Linked DNA regions of Homo sapiens: region 2 is linked to region 1. The links come from fine-mapping of genetic effects on plasma protein levels. A gene starts in region 1. The other region holds a variant in brackets. All regions are shown on one strand. Distances are from middle to middle.

Region 1 (5,369 bases):
GACCGCGGGGCGCGGGAGGCGCCGGCTCCTCGCTGCCTTCCCGGGCCGGCGGCGGCGCAGGGCGCGTGGACGAGCCGCTCTCCCCTCCTCCTCTCGCTGCTCTTCGTCCGGCCGCTCTGTGCAAGCGCCGCTGGCTGAGCTGGTTCTAGGGGCACTTCCCTCCGCCTGCTCCGGGCTCCGCGGCCGGCTCTGCCCGGCGGACTCCAGCGGCGGCGGCGGCGGCGGCGTCCGCGCACGTTGGCACCGGTTTGTCTGTCTCGCAGGGTCCAAGCCTTTAAATTTCCTGCACTTTCAGCTCCATCACCATGGAAACCACTGACTCTCTCGGCGTTGCCCCCTCCCCCTTCTTCCCCCCAAACAACAACCCCACCCCCCACTTCTCCACCCCCGAGGAGCTGGAGCTGCACAGGCTCCGGGGGAAGCCGCCTGTACTCGCCGCGGAGGCGGCGGCGGCGGCTTCGGCAGCGCCCAGGGCTGTGCCCCGCCGGACCCAGATGCCCCGGGAAGCCGACAGTCCGGCTGCCCGCCGGAGCTCACAGGCGGCGGCGGCGGCGGCGGCAGCGGCGGTGGCGGCGGCGGTGGCGCTTGGCAGGTCTCCGCGCAATTTTCTCTCTCCCCCACCACCCACCCCCCTTCTCCTCCTCCTGCAAAATGCACCGCCCCCCTCCTTTCTCCTGGAGCAATGCAACTGGGGCTCTAGGCGCCCCGCCAGGGCCAGTCCTGGGGAAAGCTCGCGGCGGCGCTGGAGCCGGGCTGGAGGGTGCAGAGCCGGTGTTTGGGGAGGGGGGGCGGTGCTTGAGGTGGGGCTGGAGGGTTTCTCACTAGCTGGGTGCTTTGCACTGGGAGGGGAGCAGCGGGGAAGTGCTGGGGGCTCGTTTCTCGGTGCATGCAGTTCGGAGCAAGAAATTTCTCCATGTGCATGGAGCGTTTTCCCCGAGCGCGTCTTCTTCTCTCCCGGGCTCTTGCTCTAAGTCCCCTCCCCCCAACACACATATATACACACACACACACACACACACACACAGCCCCTACCCCACCCCCCTTTGCACCAGGGAGTCCGAGAGCCGCAGCGTTGCGCAGCGTGATGTAATTCTTAGGAAGCACTCCTGTCTGTCTGCCCCTCGGGCCCACGAGGGGGTTCCGCTCCTCACCATCCTCCTCCTCCTTGGCCGGGTCCTGCACCCTGAGTGGCCTAGCCTCAGGGGCGCGACTGGCTCGCCTGCGGCTCCCCTAGCCCGCCCGGCTCCGCGCGGCCGCCGCTCGGCTCCCTGGGGGCGGCGCGCCCTCTGCTGGCCCGCTATGAGCCCTGCACCTGGCGCTGGCGGGGGCGGCCGTGCGAGGTGGGTCGGCCGCTGCCCGCTCTGCCCAGTTCAGCTTCTGCTTCTGTGTCCCTGTCACTTTGTGTGTGTCTGCGTCTGCTGACTGGTCCGTTTTGGTTCTGGCTATTTTCCCGAAGGTCTCCAGGCCCCCAGTGTAAACAAACTTCCTGAGATTCCTTCTCGGTCCCCTCAAATTTCACAAGAATGCGTGCAGCACCTTCTGCCTCAGGTAAATCGGTCTCTGGTCTCAGTGGGTGCGAGTGGGGACCAGAAACTTGAAAGGTGAGCTGACAGCAGAGGCACCTGAGTCTTGCCCGGGGTCCACCCTGATATAACTCGGACAAGTCATTTTTCTCACTTTTCGCATTAGTGACGTAACTATTAATAGATTTCTCTTCCAGCCCTACCTTTCTGTGATTTTAAATAAACCTCCACGATGCTTTCTCTTGTTCAGAAGCAGTTTCTCTTTGATGGGAGATGGGTACTGAAGGGACACCTCCGGTTAATTTCCCCTTGGACGAGGAACTCAATCTCAGCTTTAAAATGCAAACTCAGTTTTCTTTGTGGTGAATGTGATTGGAATCTGGAAAAAGCTGGAGAAGAGAGACTTGGAGTGGATGACTCAAGTATTTGCCAGTCTTCCATGGAGTGGGAGTTAAGAGGTCCCATTGTGACAACCTAAATCGCTTAACTTTCTTTCCCCAAAGATCTGGTTTTTCCTTTCAACCTGCCCCACCCCAACTCCCAAAGTTTATCATCTGTCTAAGGAAGAAAACACTTTGTTGCATACTACAGTCTTTCTGCAAAACCTCTATTAAAAGGGGTGGGCAGTTTCCGCTGAAAGCGTTTCCCTCAATTTTAAAGTCTAGACAACTAGAATTAGACTATCAAGGGACTGCTCAAAAGGAGATCTTGCTTTGATGGATACTGGAGTTAACAACAACCCATTGGTTGTTTGAATTGGGCTGACTTTGAAATAATGTGTGATTAGAACCTGGTACAGGCCGGGCACGGTGGCTCATGCCTGTAATACCAGCACTTTGGGAGGCTGAGGCAGGCGGATCACTTGAGGTCAGGAGTTGGAAACCAGCCTGCCCAACATGCTGAAACCCTGTCTCTACTAAAAATACAAAAAAAAAAAAAAAAAAAAAAAATTAGCTGGGCGTGGTGGCAGGCTCCTGTAATCCCAAGTACTTGGGAGGCCGAGGCACGAGAATCACTTGAACCTGGGAGGCAAAGGTTGCAGTGAGTTGAGATTGCACCACTGTACTCCAGCCTGAATAACAGAGTGAGACTCTGTTCCCACCTCCCCAACTCCTCCCCCTCCAAAAAAAGAACCTAGCACATAGTAGGCTCCTAAGCATACCTCTTTCTTTTTTATGTGCTTTATGGGGATTCAGCACTAGTTTGTTTCCTTATGAAGATTACATGTTCCAGAGCAATTTTGTCACTGATGTGAATTAACTAAGAAAATTATTTAGTGGAGTTCAAGGGCTAAACTCTAGCTCAGCCCTCCTGAGATGGTAGGTTCCAATTAATGACATTATATCATGCTGGTTTCTGTTCTTTTAATCCCCCTCTTCTCTCCTTCAAATCACCTATTTTTGCTTGAAAACCAACCCAGATCCTTTATTTAGTTGGGCTGAGCAGATTTGACTGAACAGCAAAAAAGGTCCCTCAGGAACCAGAAACAAATCATGCTTGAGAACAGATTGGGTGACCTGTTTATGGAGTATCTACTGGGTGAAGACCATCAGGAAAAATACAAAGAAGAAAAAATTCATAGTCAGTCTCCATCCTGCAAGACTTTTGTAGTACAGTTAGGGGAGATATGACAACCACAAGAAGAAATAGTAAAAGGACATCAGAAAAATTTATAAATTCCCATAACAGTGTGGACTAGTTTTTTATAACCTTTTCTTTTTAAAATCCATGTCCCCTTTTGATAGATATAACAATATCATGCTCTTCTTTGAATGTTGTTTAAAGTTTTTAAAATACATTATTATAACCAAAAAGAAGCCCAAGCAATTATGTTAGCTATACTGTTTTCAAACCATATCTACCCCTCTTCAATGTGAAGTTCTGAAATGCCACATTTGGGAAGCTTGCAACTCCTAACTCTGTGCCACACTGGAGTAGCCCATGCGCTTAGGTACTGAGTGAACCTGGGGATGTTGGTATCAGAGACTAGGAAGTACTAAGACCTTAATGGTAGAGCTGAATTTTAGCTGAGCTTCATGAAGAAGGATGTATTTATCTGAGTATGGAGAGGAAGAGATTTGAGAGATAGGATATACATCTACATGAAGAAGGGAACCACACTTGTATGAGGGACAGCCAGAAAATCTGGGGATATGAGAGGTGGAAGAGGAAATGTCCCAGACAGGGAAGCACCACGACTTTTGGACCAGGTGGATTTAAGTTGGAATTCTGGCTGTGCCCCTCACCGGCTGTGTTACCTTTTTAAAACAGTCATCTTAACCACCCCGTTTCCATTCTCTCATCTGTAAGATGGGGATGATACACACCTCTCAGAATCATGCCACGTAAAAGAGGTAAGGAATGCCTAGCCTAGTAAGGTGCCTGGGGCAGAGCCTATATCGGGCAATGGTTTTACAACACGTTACTTCTTCAGAGAACCCCACTGCCCTCAACTGGCCAACCATCTCAGGTTTGAGCAGAAGAGGGTTGAAGGGGTGAGGATGCTGCTGAAATCAACTCCAACACCTTTGGACTTGCTTTCTGTCCACTCCATCTGTGCAACTTGAGGGCTGCCAGGCTTCAGGAGTTTGAGGGAGGGAGGACTGTAGTTTCTTAGGAGATTCTGTAGTCAACCCATTTTGATGCTTCTGTGGTTCTGTTGAAGAGGGAGCTTGACAAAACTGGACAAAGAGGGTTGTATTTCTTGCAAAGGAAGCTGTGGGCGGAAGATGGGCCAATGGAAGTACGGCTATCAGCTTGACTCTCGCTGTGGGCGGTGCTTGGACTGTAGTGGGGCTTGGTTGGGGACTTAGGCCTCAGGAGGCTACATAGGAAGAGTTAATGAACAACATAAATGGAGGCCTGTCCCTGGGTAGCCCCATCCCAGGTTTCTGTCCCTGCAAAATTCTCTGGGCAAGGTAAATGGAAGCACTCCTTTAAACAGTCGCTGGGGCAACTCCAGGTCAAAGGCAAGAGGAGCCTGAGGGTGCTTTTATGTATCTTCTCTTATTTCTATCATGATTCGAAGAACAACTTGACAATCTTCTTGCTTCTTTGGCCCTGGAAACATAGACCTAAGGCAACTGTGGGTGACGCCTAAAGGGCATGGGGCTTGAGGTCAGAAAACTTGCAATCTACCAGCTGTGCGACCTTGGGTGAGACACTCTACCTTTCAAGGACCATGAGACGTCCTTGGAGAATGCATGAGAACTGCCATCTTTTACAGCTGGTGTCATCCCAGGCATTGAAATTCTCTACCCTCTGTTTCTGACAATCTCTTGGGACCCATAAATATAGAATCTGATGGGCTTTCTCTTAATGAGACCCCAAAATGGCATTCTTGGGCTTGACTTAAGTTAGCAAAGGGAGACCAAGTCAGCCATGAGGCTTGTCACATATCTCTCTTGACTGCCAGAAGGTGACAGTAGAGGTGGCACTGAGGTCAGAGGGTGGTGAACTCCATGTAGCCTCCTGGGTGCTGGGGAGCCCTGGCCAGTTCAGAACTCACAGTGAGGGTAGAAAGAACCCAGTTCAGCTTCACAGGGCATTATAATTGTGTGTGTGTGTGTGTCCCATTGGTGGTTAGATTCTGGTGAGAAGTAACTAAAATGGGCATGCTGGGCAAAAGAGGGAAACTAGGAGAGAAAGAGGAGGGAGAGAGTGGGAAATCACTCTAAAACGTGGTCTGGGGTGGGAACGTGGGCAAATACATGTGAAATACATTTCCCAAAATAGAGACGAAGTTTAAGACCAAAGGAGGAAAGGAGCTTCAGCGAGCTTATTCCAGCCCCGACAGCCCCTTCCCTTCCTCAGTCTGGCTCCTGCTCCGCCTGTAGCCCCCTCCCC
Region 2 (5,376 bases), 190 kb before region 1:
TAGAAGAAAGCCTGGCAGACAAGAGCTATGTAAACATTTGTTTATTAAAATCAACACAAATGAATAAAAACATCAGCTTTGTGACCTGGACAAGCCATGTGACAGCTGGGGCCTCAGTTTCCAAATCTGGGGCTATCATCAGGCTCCAAGGGATAACCGTGTGCACAGTGTCTGGTACTGGGAGTCTCCACAAACGCCACCCCCTTCCTTCCTCTCAGCCCTGTGTCACACTGGGACCCTGTCTGTCTTTCCCGTCACTCCTCAAGAGCAGAGGCACATGCCTGAGCAACAGCACAGAGGCACACTGCTTAAGGTTCTCAGGCATCTGTGTTCTCTGGAATTGGACAAGGAGAGCAGAAATTGCTTCTCTGGTTTGGAAGAGCAAATGGACATGGGGTGTATGTGCGCGCGTGCTTGCGTTGGGGCGGGCGGTGGAGACACAGCACCGGCCACACCCCCGCCAGTCCACACAGAGCTGCTCTGTGCAAAGAGCGACTTGACTGCGACTCTGGCCGCCCGGAGCGAGGGCGGGCGCGGGGGCTGCGAGGGCCCGGTCGGCCACTAGGGGTCAGTGTGTCTCCGCCGCAGGCGCCCGCGCGCCGCTTACCTGATTGGGGCAGGCGCCCGCTGACAGCTCTTGACAGTTTGCAACATTTCCTGCCTAACATTAAAAAAAAAAATTAATTAATGTATCTTTCTCCGTAGTAAAGAAGGGAGCCCAGACAACCGAAATAACAAGCCGGCTCTCTTTGCAGGAAAATGCAGAAGGCGGTTAAACCGTCCCGTCCTTCGCATTCCTGGGCTGGAGGAATAAGGATCCAATTGTGGTTTCTGCGCTGGTTATCTTGGTGCCGCCGAGGGGGCCACCGGGGAAAATCTGCTGAATTCTTCCTTTTCTATTTTCTGCCTCGGCGAGGAGGAGGGCGTTAATGCCGGTTGGCAGTTACATGAAACTGAGATGGATGGTAATGGGGTGTGTTAGCAAACAAGGGCAGGAAATAAAGTGTCATATTTTCTGGAGGGTGAACCGCTCCCCGGAGACAGAGCTGCACCAGGCGTCTGCAGAGGAGACACTTTGAAGGAAAAAAAAAAAAACCCTGTATAATCTCTCTCTCTCTTCACTTTCCTGTGCCTCCTTGGTGAGACATAAATTCAGTTTTATCCTCAGTCTAGCTAACAGGCAAATAACAGGGCACAAAAAAAGAAAAGAAAAACCCACTTGGATTTCTACTTCAATGTTCAGTACTTATTCTCTTGTCTCAAGCTGAGTCTGGAGGTAAAGAGAACTTCAGGACTTGGAGGCAGACTTCACAACATCAGAGCTACCTGCCTGGAATCTCGAACTGAGTGTCCCTGGAATCAACTGTGTGTGGTCATCAAGGCCCATCCCCAATCCTACCCACTTGGCAGATAGGAAGCCCTGAAGCTGCCTGCTTGCCGTTGCTTTGTACATGTGGGAAACACCCTCACCCCATTCCTGCATTCCCGTCACCCTCCTCCAAGGCACCCTCTCCGATTCTTTTTGCAAGGACTCAAGACTCCTACTGTCCTGGCAGCCTGCCTCCCCCACTGTCCCTTTCTCTGGAGGATGAGCTTTTTGAAAGCCTGGCTACTGTCTCATTCTTCTTTGTAGCCCTAGCACCTGGCACAGTTCCTAGTGCATTGTTAGGAGGTGCTTAATATATGTTTGTGAGTGAATATATGATATCCCGAACTCCTCTGCTAGAAATAAGGGCCGGTGCATACTGAACATATCATATCCCTGTCCTAAATGCTTTGCATGCTTTCTCTCATTTAATCCTTACATCAGCCCTGTGAGATAGGAACTAGAAATGACGTCATCATCGTCATCATCATCATCATCATCATCCCATTTTACAGATTGGAAAGTTTATCCTTAGCGGGGGCAACCGACTTGCCCACAGTTACAGAACCTGGCAACGGCAGAGCAGGAAGACAGACCCATCAGTCGATGCTTCAGACCTCTCTCTCCTTGGGCAGCGTCTAAATCCCTTGCATGGCATTTCACACTTACTAATTTATGTTACTGTAAATACATTGTGCTCTTGTTTGATCTCCTTGCAAAAATGTAAACTCCTTGAGGTCAGCACTGTGGCTATGGTTTCTCTGTGGCCCTCAAGAGAGAAAAGACCAAATTAGGGCAGTAGTCTGAGTCCTC[T/C]GGAAGTGGGCCTTTGGGTTTGTCTTTGCTTTGGACTGGATGGATCTCCATGGGGCCCGACTACTTCTGAACTGTGGAGTTTGAGTTCCTGGGTGAAAATTCCAACTCTACTGCTTGCTAAACTGGACTGTCACTTAAGCCTCTCTGGGTCTTGGTTTCCTCATTTGCAAAATGGGGGTAATAGTAGCCCCTACCTCTCAGAGGTATCATGAGGATGAAATGAATTAGTGTATTTGTTTTGAATGGTGCTTGGCACAAATCTCCACTAAGTGTTAGTGGTTCTTATTTTGAGACACTGGACACAGAATTTGCATTCTTTGCTGCCACTTGTGACCTGGATGTTTGTCCTTATTCAGTTCATCAAATGACTGTGGGCCTCATAACTCCCTCTTTCTCTTTTAAAAAGTCATTCTTCCATGAAAAACGAACAGTACACCAAACCAACAACCTTGCACGTTTGAGAAGACAAAGGAAGACAAACATTTGGCATCCCACCTTAGGCATTCACTTCTTGTTGCTTATTAACAATATATAAATCAACAAGGATATCCATATTAGGCTTGATACTCGATATATTTGGTATATGGCTGCTTTGAGTGGACACACGCTCACAATTAATGATGCCAGCCGGCTTCTCCGGATGGATATAAATACTCTAGGAAGAGAAACCCAAGACCAAAGGCTTGGGACACCCCACGCTGTCAGCACCAGCTCATGCTCTTCCTGTGGATGATGCAGCATGACCTGACACTTATTCCTTCCTGAGAGCTGGGTGAACCCACTACAGCCACATTTTTGTCAGTATTCCCAGTGGTGTCACGAGACACCACGTTCTCCAAGACCAAAATGCATACTGTTGAGTTTTCTTCAGAAAGTGGATGGAGAGGAAGACTCAGATCTCTTTGTGGGGGTGGGGACTCAGGCTGCTTGGGAGTGATTCTCACAGTTACCACTCAGTCTCCAAATATTTAGGAACCACTTGCTATATTCATGGACACAGTACTAGGTGTGGGGATATTGGTGGGTCCATCTCCATGGAGGATGCAGCCTAACGGGGAAAAATAATTACTGTTCTGCTGAGTGTTGGGAAGGAGAAGGAGAAGGCCAGTGTGCTCAGAGTGCTATGGAGTTTATATAGGGGTGAGGGGACCCTATTTTGGCCCAGAGATCAGGGAAGGCCTCCAGAGGATTGCTGTCTGGAATGAACAGCAGGTAGCTAGGCAGAGAGGAGGTGGAGTGTTCCAAGCTTGTGCTAGACCCTGAAATTGAACATGTGGAAGGTTTGAGAAAACAGAGAAAAGCCCTGCAGGGTTGGAGTGGAGAGAACAACAGGGAAGGGAGAGTGAGTTGAGGTGAGCTTGCAGAGATGGGGCAGGGGTGGGGTAGGCCATCCATAGCCTTGATTGATAGCCACAGTAAGGCTTTGAGGATTCATTACAAGGGTAATAGGATTCAGCAGAAGTATTTTAAACAAGGAGAAGAAGGTAATGAGATTTACATCTAAAAAATGCCTCTTGTACCTATCTGCAGTATGGAGCGGAGAGGGTTAGAGAGAAGCCAAGGCAGCATGGGAGATTAACTAGGAACCTCTGTAGTAGGTGGCGGGGAGAGATGAATGTGGCCTGGAGTAGGGTGGGAGGGGTCAGGGCAGAGAAGGTGGGTGGATTCTACAAACATTTAGGTGACAGAATTGATAGGATGTGGGAACAAGGGAGAAAGAGGAAGCACAGAAGACTTCCAGGTTTTGAGTTTGAACAGAAGAGTGGATGGTGGAAGGGAGTGGGTTTGGGGCAGAGCAGGTCATGTGTTCAATTGACATTGAGGTCCTAGTGAGATGTCCAGGGGCAGGTGTCAGGTAGGGTCTGGCATGCAGCTGATAGGCTGGGCTGGTCTTGTAGATTGTGAATCATTGGCTTATAGATGGTATTTAATGCCATGGAGTGGGTGAGGTCCCAACCGAGTGAGCAGGGCAGTGCTGGAATGGAGAAGGTGAATGGCGTTCCTGGAATTGGAGGGGCCATATAAGGGAAGACCACACATGGCGGGGTTAGGCTCTCCTACAGGATGATTTGGCATTTGTTTGGGAAACCAATCTTAGGTGGCAAACCATTTCTTATACTTTTATGTTTTTGGAAGAAATAGTAGTGACTTGAAATTTCAGCCACATGATGTATCTTCAGTCATTCTTAGCTTGCTTTGGGGAGTTGGCAGAACCTTGTTGAGGTCGAAAAGCCATAGGTCCTTTGCTGCTGCTTTGTTTTGCTGAAATTCTTCCCATGTGATCTTGTTGGAACAAGGACCTTTCTTGGGTGCTCCTCTCTGTCCTTTAGCCCATTATAGTACTTCCTAGGTAGCCTTTGGGGCAAGGCGAAAATTCCTGAAAAAAGCAAGTTTGTAAGGGCATCTTCTCTCAATTGATGTCCTGTCTGACTTGGTGTGTGTGTGTGTGTGTGTGTGTGTGTGTGTGTGTATATATATATATATAGTGTATTATACATATTTGTATATATGTTATGTATACTAATATAATAAATAATATATTAATATATATAATTTATTTAAGTAAATTAATATAACATGTAGTATTATATATAATAATATATAATATAATATTATATATATATAAAAATGGAGACAGAGTCTCACTCTATTGCTTAGGCTGAAGTGCAGTGGCAGGATGATAGCTCACTGCAGGCTTGAACTCCTGGGCTCAAGTGACACACCTGCCTCAGCCTCCCGAGTAGCTAGGACTACAGGTGCATGCCACCATGCCTGGCTAATTTTTAAATTTCTTTGTAGAGATAGGGAGCTCAATATGTTGCCCAGGTTAGTCTTGAACCCGTGGGCTCAAGGGGTCCTCCTGCCTCAGACTCCCGAGTGGCTGAGATTACAGGCGTGAGCCACCTCGCCCTGTCTGGATTAGGTATTAATTAGTGGGAAGAGCTGCTTTGGAAGGAGGAGTGCCCCTAAATTTAAATGGATGACCGAGCCTTCATCCTCTCACCTTTACACTCTCTCTGATTCCAACTTCCCAAATGTGTGTGAGGTGCTCTGCTGATGGCAGGGAGATAATGTTAAGTAGCAAACAGACATGGCATTAAATTACATTAAATCACAGAGTGATGAACTTACTTCATTTTTAATCCTGCTCTGAAAAGGAGAAAATTCCAGGATTTTTTAATGCTTACTTATCTCTC

What was found. PIP is the chance, under the fine-mapping model, that this variant and not a neighbour inherited with it causes the effect. Protein levels are from the aptamer-based SomaScan assay of Sun 2018.
Region 2: its variant is fine-mapped to the plasma level of the NOG protein (Sun 2018, PIP 0.91).

Annotation. Positions count from the first base shown.
Region 1 is chr17:56,588,580-56,593,948 of GRCh38, reverse strand. It overlaps NOG (noggin), which reads right to left and starts at 250. Exons shown (of 1, transcript NM_005450.6): 1 at 1-250. RefSeq lists a silencer at 1,188-1,397.
Region 2 is chr17:56,775,583-56,780,958 of GRCh38, reverse strand. No RefSeq gene overlaps it. Among named protein-coding and RNA genes, the nearest start is that of C17orf67, 56 kb to the left of the region's middle. RefSeq lists a silencer at 419-658. The variant T/C (reference allele first, on the strand shown) is at 2,180.